Regions from separate parts of the Homo sapiens genome. Here region 1 is linked to region 2. Evidence: fine-mapped expression QTL. A gene starts in region 2. The other region holds a variant in brackets. All regions are shown on one strand. Distances are between the middles of the regions.

Region 1 (2,770 bases), 980 kb before region 2:
ATATCCACAGACACACACCAGAAACACATCACCCACACAAAGACACACAACATGGAAACATCACACCACACACACATACACCCCCTCATGCATCCAAAGACACAAGCATGTCAAAAGACAGGAACTACAGAAACCACTTGCGCCCCTAGGCACTTACCCATGTATCCAAAGACACAACACAAACCACACACACAATATCCAGACACACAACACAAAGAAATCACACAGATTCACACAGGTACACACACACATTTACAAAGATGCACGATGCGCAACCAGTATCTAAAATATCACACATCCACACAGACACACACACATATAAAACACAGAAACAGCCAAATCCACCCATAGTCACACAAAAATTTACACACAAATACACGCAGCCCTACATACCCAAAAACACAGAACACAAGACAAATGACATATAGTTCCAAAGGACACGGACACACACTGGGAGACCCAAATATCCAAAGATATCTAGTGCAGAATAAAAGGAAACAGACACATGTCCACACACCTATCCCCCAAAAATTCTTAAAAAAACCAGAACACAAATAAGTGATACACACACACACTCCACATCCCAAGACAAAGGTAGTGTGGACTTCACTCCAGTTGCCAAGGCCCCCGCACCCCCGGGTCATTTCAGTCTCTCCCAGACCCGAGGGTTGCAGGGAAGGGATGATGTCTCCCTTCCCCAAAAAGAATCTGGAGGCCCCCCACGCCCTCCACCCCGCCAGGGAGCGGTGCATCCGACACCATTCTTGTCAGAGACCCACAGTCACACACTCTCGCACCCCCGCGCAGCCCCGCACTCGGTGACAGCCCCCCAGACACCCCTTCGGCCCCACCCCCGGTCGCCACACACACACAGGCCCGCGTAGACCCGCCCGCGCTTCCTCTCCGCCTCCCGCCGGCCCGCACCACCTCAGGGGGCCAGGGATGACAGTGGCCATCTTGCTCCCCGGGTCCTGCCCCCAGCAGGTCCCCGCCGGGTCGGTCCTCCCAGCGGTCGGGCGGGCGCTGAGGCCGCCCATCCATTCATTCCCGGGGGGCGGGAGCACGAGGGCCACGGCCAATCGCGGCGACGGGGCGGGCCCGCCCGGGCCATGCTGGGAGTGGTAGTCCCAGGCCAGGGGGCCCCCGGGACCCCGCGGGGACGGGACGGCGCGGAGGAGGGGCCCGGGGCACGCACCGTCACTCACCCGCCCTCACTCGTCCACATATCCTGCTCTCGCGTGCACACAACCACATGCACACCTGGACTCGCACACGCCCACGCATGGCAGTTTACACACACATTCACGCGGATACTCACAGCCTCCCACACACTCCTACTCACACACCTTCGCACGGACTCACACAGCCACACGCACACACACTGCAATACTAAGAGACGCAGAGACACCTCCCAGGTGCCCACACAGACTTCTCACCAACATGCTTCCAGCAGACACCCCCTCACCGCCCCCCACCCAAGTCCCTCCTGGCTCCA[G/A]AGACCCCACCCGGGGCTGTCTCTCCCAGCAGCCACGCTCACGGTCACCCCGCCCTGCTCAACGCCTTCTGCAGGCCTGACAGCAGCAGTGCAGGTTAGAAACAGTAGTCACACCTCCAGGGTTCAAATCCTAGCTCTGCCACTTGGTGGCCATGTGACCTTGGCAAATGACTTAACCTTTCTGGGCCTCAGTTTCCTCATCTGTAAAAAGAGGATGATGCCTCACTGGAGTGTTGTGAGGATTAAATGAGTAAATATAGGTAAAGCATTTTAAGAGGTGACTGGCAGGCCAGGCGCAGTGGCTCACACCTGTAATCCCGGCACTTTGGGAGGCCCAGGCAGGTGGATCACCTGAGGATGGGAGTTCGAGACCAGCCTGGCCAACATGGTAGTAGTCTCTACTAAAAATACAAAATTAGCCGGGCATGGTGGCGCATGCTTATACTCCCCCACTCAGGAGGCTGAGGCAGGAGAATCACTTGAACTCAGGAGGTGGAGGTTGCAGTGAGCTGAGATCGTGCCATTGCACTCCAGCCTGGGCAACAAGAGTGAGACTCCCTCTCAAAAATAAATAAATAAATAATAAGAAAGAAAGAATAATGCGGCCAGGTGCGATGGCTCCAGTCTGCAATCCCAGTACTTCGGGAGGCCTAGATGAGAGCACTGCTTGAGCCCAGGAGTTTGAGACCAACCTGGGCAACATATCCAGACCCCTGTGTCTACAAAAAAAAATTAAAATTAGCTGGGCATGATGGCGCAGCAGTGTAGTCCCAGCTACTTGCAAGGCTAAAGTGGGAGGATAGCTTGAACCTGGGAGGCTGAGGCTGCAGTGAGCTGTGGTCTCACCACTGCACTCCAGCCTGGGTGGCAGAGCGAGACTCTGTCTCTAAAAGCAAACAAACAAACAAACAAACAAACAAAAAACTAAGTAAGCAGGGCGCCGTGACTCATGCCTGTAATCCCAGCAATCTGGGAGGCTGAGATGAGAGGACCGCTTGAGCTCAGGAGAACAGCCTGGGCAACATAGCGAGACCTGGTCTCTACTAAAAAAAAAATAAATAGCTGGGCATGGTGGCACATGCCTATGGTCCCAGCTACTCAGGAGGCTGAGTCAGGAGGATTGGTTGAACCCAGGAGATCGAAGCTGCAGTGAGCTATGATCACACCACTACACTCCAGCCTGGACAACTGAGCAAGACCCTGTCTCCAAAAAAAAAAAAAAAAATAGATGCTCAGTAGATATTTGTTGAATGAGTAAATGCACCCATCATGTGC
Region 2 (2,810 bases):
ATCCTAGCCTGGGAGTTTGGAGCTGGGGGCTCCTTGGAGCTCTTGGGGGACAGGAGTGGCTGGGGAGGGTTTGGGAGGGTGTCACCGCTGGATCTAGGTCCCAGGTCTGTGAGTGCAAGGTGGCCTCAGGGACCTCCAGGGTTGGGTCTTGGGGGTGGGCTGTGGGACTGATTTTAGGGCTGAGGCTGGTCTGGAGGGTCTAGGGGAGTGGAGAGCATGAAGGCTACACTGGGTGTTCCTATAATCGAGTCTGGAGTCTTGAGGTCTGGGTTAGTTTTGGAGTCTGGGAGCTTTGAGATGTGATGATCTGGGGAGTGGGGGCTGGCTTTGGTTCTGGGGACTCCAGGGTGAGGGGGTCTAGGAGCTCTCAGTCCCCAGAATTAGCCAGCCCTCTCTGGGAAGTACAGCTGTGGGCGGGTGGGTAGGCGGAAGATTCCAGAAGGTGGAGGGTTGGCTCTGAATCTCAGAGCTGGGGCGGAAATCTCCGTCCCAGGGGCCTGGGCTGCAGGTGGAGTGGGGACCGGGTGCTGGGGGTGAGGAGAAGGAGGACCTGGTTTGGGTGAGGACTCTGAGATGGGGGCCTCCAGGACTGGTTCTAGGGAGGCCTGGTGCTCCCTGTTACAGTCGGGAGCTCAGGGGTGTGGAGCAGCCTCGGGGCTTGGGTGGTGGGTGTGGGGGCTTATGCGGAGCTGGGGCCTGGGCCTGGGGTGGGCTCGGAGCTTTGGGCGGCCGGGCACCTGCAGTAGAGCGCGGAGATAGCGTTGGACCAGTCTCCTAAGATGCCCCGGCGGTACTCCTCCAGGCGCGGGTAGGTGCCGGCAGAGAACTTGTGCGTCTTGCCCGCCTTGCCTTGCCGGGACCACACGGTGAGCTCGCAGCGCGGGGCCACCACAAGTGAGGAGGCGGTGTTGGCCCAGTTGGAGGGCAGGTAGGGCAGGTCTGCGCCCGACTCCAGCGACAGCTCGGCGCCCCCGCAGCAGTTCTCATAGTAGGGGTCGCTCTTGTCATAGAGCTTGGCGCAAGTGCGCGTCCCGTCCGAGTGCTTGAGGTCGGCGGAGGCGGGGCAGGCGCCCTGGGCGCAAGGCACGGAGGCAAGGGCCAGGGCCAGCAGCAGCGGGCGCAGCGGGGACATGGTGGCAGTGCCCTGCCGCAGCCCCGCGCGCTTTTATGCGCCCGACCCGTGGGAAGGGACAAGCTGCGAGATAAGGACTCATCGAGGGAAGGGGAGGGCGCCCCTCCCTCAGGAGCCGGGAGACCTGCCTAACCTAGGTCGGAAGCCCACAACCCTGAGTACAAGGTGGACGCTGTGTATACAACTTAGCACCTTAAGATGTTAGGTGACCAACAACATTATAAAGAGAGACAATAGACAGAACTTGAGGAGGAGTCATTTGCAACACAGAGGGTGGCATAGGTTAATAGACAGAAATGGGAAGAGCTCTTAAAAATTGACAAGGGGCTTGCTGGTTGCTCACGCCTGTAATCCCAGCACTTTGGGAGGCCTAGACGGGTGGATCGCTTGGGCCCAGGAGTTTGAGACCAGTCTGGGCAACATAGCAAGATCCCATCCCTACTGAAAAATAAAATTAGCTCAGCGTGGTGGCATGGCCTGTAGTCCCATCTACTCACAAAGCAGAGGCGGAAGGATCGCTTGAGCCCGGGAGTTCGAGGCTGCAGTGAGCCGAGATCGTTTCACTGCACTCCAGCCTGGGCAACAAAGACAGGAAAAAAAAGATAAGGAATGGAACAACCCTTATTCTAAATAAGGAAAGACTGGGAGGGGGAGGCAGGAGTGGGAGGCTGGGGCCTCCTGGCTGGGCAGGCTCCCTCCCTGGGAGGCAGGACCTTGGGAAAGGAGAAGCTGGAGATAAGGATAGAGGCCCTCGTGGTGGGGCGGGGGGGGGCAGGTAGAGAAGGAGATGGGGAGGAGCCCAACGCCCCACCCCCCACCCCCACCAGGCTCAGACTGGGCAATCTTCCCAACCAAGGCTGGCAATCCAGAATCTGTGAAGTACAAGATAGCAGTATTTGCATAACACGTTAAAAACCTTTTGCAAGACAGTGTACAAAGGCTTGAGGAGATATTTGCAACATTTCAAAAGCATAGCATTGCAAGCTATAATATATAAAGAGTGCACACAGGTTGGGCGCGGTGACTCACGCCTGTAATCACAATACTTTGGGAGACTGAGGCAGGTGGATCATTTGAGGCCAGGAGTTCGAGACCAGCCTGGCCAACATGATGAAACCCCGTCTCTACTTAAAGTACAAAAATTAGCCAGGCGTGGTGGCACATGCCTGTAGTCCCAGCTACTCGGGAGGCTGAGGGATGAGAATCACTTGAACCCAGAAGGTGGAAGTTGCAGTGAGCCGAGATCGCGTCAAAAAAAAAGAGTGCATACAAATTGACAAGAAATGCACTCCTCCCTCCCACATGCTAAGGACAGGCCTAGGAGAGGGAGAGGGAGGGAACAGCCTGCAACTCCCACCCCAGGAGCCAGGAGACTTTCTTAACTAAGGTTGGAAATCTTCAATCTATAAAACTTCAATCTTGTTTTATAGATTTTGAGCTGTATAAAACTGTAAAAACTGTCATATAGCAAAAACAAAACAAAACCCACAAACCCATCCAGGGAAAAATAGACTCAATTCCTATCATATAAAATGAGCTCTTACCAATCAGCCAATAGAAATGAAACAAGGGCCGGGAGCAGTGGCTCACGCCTGTAGTCCCAGCACTTTGGAAGGCCCAGGTGAGTGGATCACTTGAGGTCAGGAGTTCGAGACCCGCCTGGCCAACATAGTGAAAC

What was found.
Region 1: its variant is fine-mapped to the expression of SYCN in fibroblasts (GTEx, PIP 0.96).

What each region holds. Positions count from the first base shown.
Region 1 is chr19:38,223,187-38,225,956 of GRCh38, forward strand. It overlaps DPF1 (double PHD fingers 1), which reads right to left and starts at 1,036. Exons shown (of 12, transcript NM_001135155.3): 1 at 928-1,036. The coding sequence starts at 956. RefSeq lists a silencer at 801-1,370. The variant G/A (reference allele first, on the strand shown) is at 1,496.
Region 2 is chr19:39,203,123-39,205,932 of GRCh38, forward strand. SYCN (syncollin) reads right to left here and starts at 1,141. Exons shown (of 2, transcript NM_001080468.4): 1 at 738-1,141. The coding sequence starts at 1,132.